2 separate regions of the Homo sapiens genome follow, and region 2 is linked to region 1. Evidence: fine-mapped QTL for protein levels in blood plasma. A gene starts in region 1. The other region holds a variant in brackets. All regions are shown on one strand. Distances are from middle to middle.

Region 1 (5,349 bases):
GGGATGCAACTAGATGCACTGTGTATGCAGGTGCCAGGGGGCTCTCACCAATGGTTGTCTCACAGAACTTCTCATCAGCCACCTCGCTGGCAATGTTGGCCCCCATCAGCACACTCATGGGGATGCCGAGGCGCTCCCCAATCACTTCCGAGATGAGCTTCAGCCCATTGGGGCCCTCGTCTACCCCCTGAGCACAGGATGGAGCTCAGGCCAGGTGCCCTTTGGGCCCACCTGCGGGCTTCCGCCCAGAAATTCTGTCCCTTCCAAATCCATTGCTCATCTGTGTCCCTCCCGACAGGTCCTGCCCCATTCCAACCCAGCTCAAGTTTGCTGTGAGGAGGCCAGACAGCATGTGACCAACTGTCCTGCCACATACCCTCAACCAGTCTACTTCTCCAAGGCAACGGGTCCCCTCCACATCCCTAGGCAACCCCGCCTGACTGCCCCAACAAACTGCCATTCAGTGACCAGTCACTGCTCCAAACCAGCTACTCTTCACACTTCTCAAACCAGCCCGCTTCTCATATCTCCCAGGCATTCCTTTATACCTCCGAAACTCCCCGAGAGGACCTCCAAACCAATCTCGTCTCCTCCCTTCAGCCTCCCTTCCAGTGACCCCCAGCACCTCACTGCTTTCCTAAGCCTCTCCAGAGCCAACTGCCTCTCTTTTCTCCAGCAAACTCTTGGCCTGCGTCTGCCATTTTCTGTTCTCCTTGCTTCACCCACCCTGAACCCCACAACAGTGAGCCGCACCCTCCCCCATCCACATGAAGGTGTCCCTGGCACCTTAATAAGAGATATGCCAGTGGCGTTTGCCTTCAGATGGCCCTTGAGCTGGTCACAGATCTTGCCGATGAACTGATGGGGCACCACAAAGATCAGGATGTCAGCATCCTCTGCAGCCTGGACCACATCTGGGACAGCCACCTGTGGGGGTGACCAAGTGCTCGCGGGCCTGGCAGACCTCCCCTAGCCCCTGTGGAACCCTATTCAGGAGATCTGGGAGCCAAAGAGTGAGGCTGGTAGGGGAGCAGGAAGGCTTGTTTGGGACTGAATCTAGAAGGACTGAACTTGGAGGAATAAGACACTCTACTCCCTCCCCCCAGCTACCACTCTGTCTCCCTCCAGCTGTCCTGGGCTCTTGAGGACTCCTGGAAACCTCATCCCAGCACTCTCCTATCCCTTGGCTGTGGGACAGTGCGGGAGGCCAAAAGCAGCCTGGGCTTGGCAAAAGAAAGAGCTCAAATAAGATTTCATCACCCAGCTCCTCAGGAACCCCAGCTGGGAAGGGGGAGCCCCAGCCTTTCTGCTCTCTTCCCTGCTTCCCCTTTCCAGGTGGGGAGAGCCACGTGGATTTGACCAAAGACCGTAAGTCCAAGGAGCAGCCTCCAAGTCGGCTACTCACTCAGTGAATGAGTAACAGGATTAGTGCCGGAGGCAGGCACTACTGGACCCCAAGTCTGGGAGCCCAGTCTTTGGCTGCCATGGAGACCAACTTGTTCTCCCATCCCTTCCCCACCCACCCGCCTGGGAGCCTGTGAGGGGAAAGCATAGGTTCTCCTCAGTCCTCAGGAAAGGGCCCAGAGCAGCCCTCCTGAGACCTTCCCAAGTCCTGCTGCACCTGAAGCGGCCCTCTCAGCAGGAGGCACCTGTTGAGTAAGGTCGGCTCCAACTCCTGGCCCTCCCTTCCTCTCCCTGTTCTTCGCAGGGTGTTGGGGCTCACCACATTTGGGGGCAACTTGTGCCCTGGCAGGTATTTGACATTCTCATGCTGCGTGTTGATGATCTCAGTCAGCTTTTTGCCTCCAATGTCTTCCTCAAATACCCACATGGTCACCCGTGGGTCAAACTGTGCCAGCTGGGCTGCATTGCCACCCACGATCTTGGCGATGGCTGAGCCCCTGGTGGGAGGGGGAGCACAGGAAAGTACAGGAGGAGGGAACAGTGGCAGGAGTTGGGGCAGCGCCCCACCTCAGGATCTCACAGCAGCCCCCCAGGCTGTTCACTCCTACCTACCTTCCTTATCACCTCCACTCCCATGACAAATAGTCCCCAGTGACCTGGCAGTAGAAAGGAGACTCAGTCTCCTCACCCTTTGCTACTAGAGAAGGGAGCCCCACTTCTCATCTTCCCACCCCCAAACTCAAGCGGCTCTTCACATAGAGAGCTCTGGAGACGCCTTCCCATGGTGAACAGGTGCAGCTGCCCAGGAGGGCGGGGGTCAGGAGAGGGCCGGGCACCGTCTGTCCTGTGCTGCTATGATAGAAGATAGCAGCAGGGGCTGAACAGGAACCTGAGGGCCTTTCCCACCCATTCTGCCTCCTACCCACCTCTGTCTTGGGGGGCCTACCCTTCCCCCATATCACTTGACAGAGCTGCTTACCAGTTCCCGGAGCCTACAATGCAGACTTTCTTGCTAGCCATGGTGCCGCGTCTCTGCCTGAGCCGGCTCAGTGCCACACTCCCTAGCTCCTCTGCCGGCTAGGAGCATTTAACTCCACCACACGTGGGTGCAGCCAAGCCCCGCCCTCCAGGGGTGGGTGGGGAGGCTGGCGCCCAGGGAGATAGAGAGTCTGGCAGAGCCAGGGAAAGGAGAGACAGGGGTACAGACAGGTGTGGAACAGGAATGGGGCAGAGACTAGGCCCAGCTTTTTCTCCTGGGCTCATCGGCTGACAGTGCTGGCAAGCTTCTTCCCTTGGCCCCAGCCCAGCTTCCCACCATGGTCTCATTTTGAGGTCTGCTAAGAAAATAGCCCAGATAAGGAGCAGGTGACTGCTCTCCCTTGCTCCTTTCTGTCCCCCAGCATGAAATAAATTGTATTTAGCTTCAGTAGCAGCTAGGGGAATGCTTTTCAGAGGTAGGCTCCTCCATGACCCCCTATCCCCCCGCCAACCCTGCCACATATCCTCACAGGACCCTGTTCCACAGTTCTGTCCTCCAGCAGGCCCACGCTAGCTCCACTGCAGGGCTGGGGTGGGGGATGTGGGCCCACTTCCCACCTCTAAAGATGAGGCCACATAAGAGGTAAGGGCCTGCTTTGAGGACAGCCCAGCTCAAAAAAGGATGAGAGACTCCAGGTGCCTCAAAAGACAAGATTGTCTTGGTCACCCACAGAGGTCATCTTGGGGACTCATCCATGGGCCTCTCAGATGATCCCCACCCAAAAATGTGTTCTAGGGAAGGTGGGAAAGGTTAAAGTTAGAGAGCTCTGAGAATTGCGGTACACAATTTTGTTGTAGACTCTGGGCTTAAGAGGACAGGAGAGAATAGGAGGCAGGCAGAGTGCACACTGTCCTTGAAAGGCTTTGAGCCTCCTTCAACTCCTCCTCTCAGGGGTTTCCAAGGTACTGCCCCAGGGGCTTCATCAGGTGAATGGCTAGTTTGCAGAGGCCAGAAAAGGGGAAGGCAGGCAGTACCCGGGGCAGCTGTGTCCGTGGGGCTTTGTGGTCTCAGATGCTGTGATTGGGGGTAAGTTTGGTGTATGTTTTTTGGGGAAGGGCGAGAATGGAAGGAGCACCCTCAGCAGTTCAGGGCTCTGCATCGCCCACGGCCATCTGTTTGTCTAAGACGAGGGAAGCTCTGGTTTCCAGGCTGATCTGGAGAGTGGAGCAAGAGGCTCCTAACACTGTGCACCTTGGCCTAGAGGGCAGACACCACTGTGTGCTCATGTGCTGACCTCCTGGCTTGGCAGACGGCTAGGTGGGTGTTGCCATCCCCCTGGGCTGTTGCTGGCCAGCAACTGGTAACAAGCACTGGGCTACAGGGGAGTCTGTGTGCAACCCATGGGTAGGAGTAAGCAGGCAGGAGGTCAAGACTGGGGAGAAATGGCTTTCTAAGTTCCGGGGACTGCCCAGGAAAAACCAACCATATTCTCCTTCCATGGCCAGTAATTTCCCATAGGGAAACGGACATGAAATCAGTAGTTGGCTGTTTTTCTTAGCACAATGTTATACCTAATACAGAAACAGCCTCCCACAGACCACTCCTTTATTGCACTGGCACTGAGATGAAGGCTCCAGTGCCAGGCTGCCAGCTGGGAGCACTGATTACGGGTGATGGAAGAGAAAGGATGCTTCTGTCCCTGGCACAAATGATGGGAGCCCCAAAGAATGGATGTTTATGCATAAAATAACCCCCTTGTTTTTGCCTAAATGCTTCCCTCTCTCATTTTGCCCCTACAATCATTTTAGATAGTGTGGAGACTAAGAATGTGCTCATTTACATGGGAATAAAGAGGGTGCAGAGATTCAGAATCGGCTCATCACAGGAAGTTATCTGTATCACTAGAGCTCTTTTCCCAAGAGCAAACTGTAGATTTGCTTGAAATTAATAATGGTTCATCAGCCATTCATTACACATGTAATTAGCCTGGGTAAAAACAGATGCCATTTCAATGTCCTTGACATCAATTTTCTCCACTCCTAGTTATCGGCCCAACCACTCCTCTCTGCTTTCCCTTCTCAAGTCTGATAAACCCCAAGTTCCGGAGTAGGAACAGTGGTTGGATTTTTTGGTGGGTTTGATTACATATATTGAACAGGCAATACTAGAATGTTCCCATCCAAACAGGCAAAGGATAATTTTTAAACTACAACTTTGGAAAGTGGTTGTACTCTGATCCTATATTCCAAACCCCATTCTTGCATAATGACAAAGGAAAAAAGTCATGAGCCTCCAAGTGGGAAGCAGGCAGAACTGCAGGCGAGTTTCAAGTGATTGCTAATGGGAATCCCTCCTGAGCTGTCTTCCAAACTCTGCCAAGGAGGGGCTAGTTGTCTACAGTATGAGGATGACAACACAGAACTTCCATGGTGCTCTTAAGAACCAGCTACTCAGGAGGCTGAGGCAGGAAAATCACTTGAACCTGGGAGGCGGAGGTTGCAGTAAGCCGAGAACGCGCCATTGCACTCCAGCCTGGGGAACAAGAACACAACTCCATCTCAAAACAGGCAAACAAAAACTGAACTCTTATTTGAACCATGAAAGCGGAACCTTAGAGTAGCAGGCACAGGCTGGGCACGGTGGTTCACACCTGTAATCCCAGCACTTTGGGAGACCGAGGCGGGCGGATCACGAGGTCAGGAGATCGAGACCATCCTGGCTAACACGGTGAAACCCTGTCTCTACTAAAAAATACAAAAAATTAGCCGGGCATGGTGGCAGGCGCCTGTAGTCCCAGCTACTCGGGAGGCTGAGGCAGGAGAATGGCGTGAACCCAGGAGGCAGAGCTTGCAGTGAGCCAAGATCGCGCTACTGCACTCCAGCCTGGGCAACAGTGAGACTCCGTCTAAAAAAAAAAAAAAAAAAAGAGTAGCAGGCACAAAAAGCAAAAATGTCTTTGGTCGTCC
Region 2 (5,374 bases), 540 kb before region 1:
TTGTAAAGTAATTTAGACAGACCTGGCGTCTTCATGGTGTTAAACTGCCCTAAGAACAAGGGATCTCTTTCCACTTATTAGGTCTACTTTTTTGTCTTTCAGGGTTTTAAAGTTTTTTTCATAAAGGTTTTAGACATTTCTTAAGTTTATTCCTAAATATATTTTACCTTTATTGCTTTTGTAAATGAAGTTTGCTCTACTATTGTATCTTTTAACTGCTTATTATTTGCATATGTTAAGGTTGTTGATTTCTGTACTCGCTTTATATCTTGCTGACTAAATTGTTTTAAGTTAATTCTGTCATTGATTCTCTCGAGTTTTCTAGATAAATTATCACATAAACTGTAAATACAGTTTTACTTCTTTTCTAATTCTTACACTTCTTACTGATTTTTCTTGTCCATCTGCACTGGCAAATACCTATGGTACAATTTAAATGTTAGTATCTTTAGGATTAAAAAAAAGCCCTTGCAAGTAAGGAGGGGGGGGGGAAGAACAACCCAACTCAAAAAAAAAAAAAAAAGGGGGCTGGGCGTGGTGGCTCACGCCTGTAATCCCAGCACTTTGGGAGGCCGAGACGGGCGGATCACGAGGCCAGGAGATCGAGACCATCCTGGCTAACACAGTGAAAACCCGTCTCTACTAAAAATACAAAAAATTAGCCGGGCGTGGTGGCAGGTGCCTGTAGTCCCAGCTACTCGGGAGGCTGAGGCAGGAGAATGGCGTGAACCCAGGAGGCGGAGCCTGCAGTGAGCCGAGATCGGGCCACTGGACTCCAGCCTGGGCAACAGAGCGAGACTCCGTCTCAAAAAAAATAAATAAATAAAATAATAAAAAAAATAGGCTTAGGCAATGGACAGGTAGTTTACAGAAGCACAAATGGCCAGTAAACATATCTCCAAATGTCCAACCTCATTAGTAACAAAAGAAATAATACTTTTACCACCAAGATAAGGATAACACTGAAACATTTGTTTTCTCATCTTTCCCAAAAAGACTAAGTGGAATATGTTATTTTTAGTTTCAAAGTAGCTGCTCCTATTCTTTTGGTTTTTGTTTGTTTGTTTGTTTTTTTGAGACGGAGTGTTGGAGCATCGATCTGTCGCCTAGGCTGGAGTGCAGTGGCGCGATGTTGGCTCACTGCAACCTCCGCCTCCTGGGTTCAAGCAATTCTCCTGCCTCAGTCTCTCGCATAGCTGGTACTACAGGCGCACGCCACCACGCCTGGCTAATTTTTGTATTTTTAGTAGAGACGGGGTTTGGTCAGGCTGGTCTCAAACTCCTGACCTCAAGCAATCCACCTGCCTCGGCCTCCCAAAATGCTAGGATTACAGGTGTGAGCCACTGTGCCCGGCCAGCTGCTCCTATTCTTGGCTTATTTTTACAAAGTGGTTAGCATATGATCCATGAGTGGCACACCTGGGCTTTAAGGACCAGGGCCAGAACTCAGACCAAGTGACCTTACTTGTTAGGATTTTTCCATAGACAGACAGATAGGGACAGAGTGACTGAAAAGCAAATGTGTAGGTGGGTTGAGTCATAAAGCAGAGAGGTATTGTTCAAGGAATTCCTTGCAAGCCAACAAGCAGTCATGCCATTTTTCCTTAATTTCTAAGGTACTGACCTCTTGCAGAGGCAGCAACGACTAACTTCTGAAATAGGATATCACAACACTAATTAGGGCACTACTCTGTGCAGGGTGGAGAGGAAAAGGAGGGGATATTTTAATTTTCCATTTCACATTCCCTTGCCTTGATAAATTATGTTTCTTCTGCCTGGAATATCCAAATAATTATCCATCCTTCAAAATGGCTCAGACATCACCACCTCCATTCTGAAGCCCATTCTTGACACTGTATGCCTTCCCGTCTCCCTCTTCTGTGTCACCTCTGAACCTTGTTTTGGGCGGGGGGGAGAAAAACTCCAGCTTAGGCAACATGGTGAAACCCTGTCTCCACAAAAAATACAAAAATCATCCAGGCATGACAGGGTTTGTCTGTAGTCCCAGCTACTCGAGCTAAGGAGGGAGGATCGTTTGAGCCCAGGAGGCGGAGGTTGGAGTGAGACGAGATTGTGTCACTCCATTTCATCCTAGACAACAGAGCGGGACCACAGCGTCCCCCACCC[C/G]CCTCCCCCCAAAAAAAGACAAACAAGAAAAACAGAAGAAAAACTCCTGTGTTTTCATCTATGCTTCTCTATCAATCTAACATTTTTCTCAAAATATAGGAAGTCTACAATAAATGCTTGCTGAACTGAATTCAACTTACCTTCTACAGCATGAGGAATATATCAGAAATAAAATGATCTTGGTGTGCCAGTGCCAGCCATCACCAGATCAGAGATTAGATTTGGACAGACAGAAAAGTTCACAATTAGGGTGGCAAAGCGAGTTAGTACTGCATTTAGCTCCCAGCATTAAATCAGAAGAATCCATACTTAGAGTAAAAGTCATTAAGAACAATAACTGGGCCGGGCATGGTGGCTCACACCTGTAATCCCAGCACATTGAGAGGCCAGGGTGGGTGGATCACTTGAGGCCAGGAGTTTGAGGCCAGCCTGGCCAACACAGGGAAACCTCATCTTTATTAAAAATACAAAAATTAGCTGGGCACGGTGGTATGTGCCTGTAATCCTAGCTACTCGGGAGACTGAGGCACGAGAATTACTTTAACCCAGGAGGCGGAGGTTGCAATGAGCCAAGATAGCACCACTGCATTCCAGCCTGGGCAACAGAGTGAGACTCTGTCTCAAAAATAATAATAATAATAGACAAAGCGCAGTGGCTCACGCCTGTAATCCCAGCACTTTGGTAGGTCAAGGCAGGCGGATCACGAGGTCAGGAGCTCCAGACCAGCCTGGCCAATATGGTGAAACCCCGTCTCTATTAAAATACAAAAATTAGTTGGGTGTGGTGGCACGTGCCTGTAATCCCAGCTACTTGGGAGGCTGAGGCAGAAGAATCACTTGAACCCAGGAGGCGGAGGTTGCAGTGAGCTGAGATCACATCACTGCACTCCAGCCTGGGCAACAGAGTGAGACTCCGTCTCAAAAAAAATAAAATAAAATAAAATAAATAAACAATAATTAAGACCTTAAAATCTTAAAACCTATCTTTAAAATTTACAATACACATAAATTTTATTTTACTATAATGAAAGATTGAAAAAATACACATTGCAAAAAGATCTAAACATATATAAAGCTAAAGTGAAAACTTTCCCTAGACCCACCATTTCCCAAAAATACTCCTGCCTCAATAGTTTGGTATATATTTTTCCAGGTCTCCATGTCTATAAACATAGTAGCATATGTTTATATTACTATAACATAATAATGCTATAAATATTACAATTATAAACATATTATTTATAAAAATCAGATTATATGCTACATACTGTCTTGCCTTTATTATTTAAAAAGTATATTTTGGGCTGGACACAATGGTTCACCACTGTAATCCCAGCACTTGGGGGAGGCCAAGGCGGGAGGATTGCTTAAAACCAGGAGTTCGACACCAGCGTGGGCAACAAAGTGAGATCCCATCTCTACAAAAAATAAAATAAGTTAACCTGGCACAGTAGCATGTGCCTGTACTTCCAACTACTTAAGAGGCTGAGGCAGGAAGATTGCTTGAACCCAGGAGTTAGAAGCTGCACTGAGCCATGATTGTGCCACTGTACTCCAGCCTGAGTGACAGAGTGAGACCCTGTCTCAAAAAAAAAAAAAAAAGGATTTTGTACATCCTTCCATATTTGCACAAATACATCTACCTCATTTTAACGTTCATAAAATTCTACTGTGTGAACATTCTATGACTTATTTAACCATTGTATTATACACAATACTACAACAAACATCTTTGTATATGTATGTATATATCTTTGTGCACACGACTGTTTATATAAAATGAATTCCTAGAAGTAGAATTTCTGGATAAAGAACATGACTATTTAAAATTTTAATGATATTGCCAAACTGTTGGGCTATTACTTTTAAGACATTACCAACTTATTTTTAGCTCTGAAATGAAATAATTTTATACTGCATTTATACTGATTATACAATTGTAGTGTCCTTGGAATTTACTTAGTTGAATCACGATTGCATATTTAATTGAATCTATGGTGTCATCTTGTATAAAACATTCTGATTTTAGGTATGTTAAAAATGAGAAAAATGTCCTCCTTATATTAGAAGGAAAAATGATTCCTAGCTGTCTTAAAAAATGATTAATCACTTCTACTGAGAAAGTAACAGACAACAGCAAATCAAATTCTTACATTTATTAATTAAAAAGAGTACATTTCCAAAAGCATTTTTATATATGATATGAAATATGTAATGGCAAACTGGACAAAGCTAGGGAATTACACACATTAAGAAAGCTTTAGAAGGCCTGTAACATTTGGATAATTAGTAATTACAGAGCATGTTTTTCCCTGTCACAGGCATTCACAGCAACAGATTACAAAACGAATCAAGCCACCCAACTATTTTCTAACATGATAAACCTTGACCCATACACCAGTGTCAAAAAGAGATGTTCAGTTATCTATTAGAAAAGACTCTTATTGATAAGAACAGGCAGCTCTCTTAACTGAATTTGACTCACTGAACACCACACAATTCATCTTGATCTTTGATAAAGAAGTCACTTCTGGAGTTCAGTCCCCAGACACAAGTGACTTTGGACATCTCTCCCAGAAGCATGTGGAAGCTGGGTATCATTTTCCAGTATTCATGTTTGAGCTGAATAAGGTAATACGAATACTCCCTTAATGTCCTGTTTTATTTTTGTTGTTTTGTTTGAGGTACCTAACTTCTCAAGAGATTAACATCAAGGGAGTCAGAATGACTTACAATAAGATCACTTTCCATCTCAGGCATTAATTTGTGTTTTCTACATTTGAGACCATACTATGTGTGTGCAGGGAGGTGAATCATGCCTGGATGTGCAGGAAAAAGAAATATACTAATAAGGTAGTATACTTGAAATTAAGCTCCCTCTTGGCTAAAGCACAAAGAATGGAATCAGGTCAGATAATCTAAACTCTGAATAAAGGTAAGTTCTTTATACTGTGTCTGAAATGTGAACACTAAGTCTATTTAGATTTGATTATGATTGGTTGAAATGTTATAGGTGTTAATAAGCCTCCATCAAATAAGAAAGTGTTTTATAATTACACTTACCAGCATTAATATAAAATCCTTCTTACATAGCCATCACTTTATTCTGAATTCTAGCAACTTTTATTAAATATACCCTAAATTCTTCAGCTATTTTTGCACATGACATGTAAATGTAACCCTTTCTATGACTGGCGTAGCAAACAGATATAAGGTCAGCTCCCATCAACCTCCACTACTTATCTGC

Direction of the effects. Alleles are on the strand shown, and positions count from the first base shown. The strength of an association depends on the size of the effect and on how common the allele is.
As copies of C replace G in region 2, the plasma level of the protein whose gene starts at base 2,467 in region 1 goes up (moderate association).

The links. A credible set is the group of variants that fine-mapping cannot tell apart. PIP is the posterior inclusion probability: the model's chance that the variant is causal. Protein levels are from antibody-based Olink assays in UK Biobank. Linkage for the fine-mapping came from a reference panel and not from the study's own genotypes, which makes the PIPs less certain.
Region 2: its variant is the best candidate, but not a certain one, in a credible set for the plasma level of the GPD1 protein (UK Biobank, PIP 0.84).

The regions. Positions count from the first base shown.
Region 1 is chr12:50,101,126-50,106,474 of GRCh38, reverse strand. It overlaps GPD1 (glycerol-3-phosphate dehydrogenase 1), which reads right to left and starts at 2,467. Exons shown (of 8, transcript NM_005276.4): 1 at 2,384-2,467; 2 at 1,724-1,901; 3 at 787-927; 4 at 49-187. The coding sequence starts at 2,424. RefSeq lists an enhancer at 3,408-3,457.
Region 2 is chr12:50,643,815-50,649,188 of GRCh38, reverse strand. All of the region lies in intron 3 of DIP2B (disco interacting protein 2 homolog B), which reads right to left. Among named protein-coding and RNA genes, the nearest start is that of ATF1, 120 kb to the left of the region's middle. The variant C/G (reference allele first, on the strand shown) is at 2,128.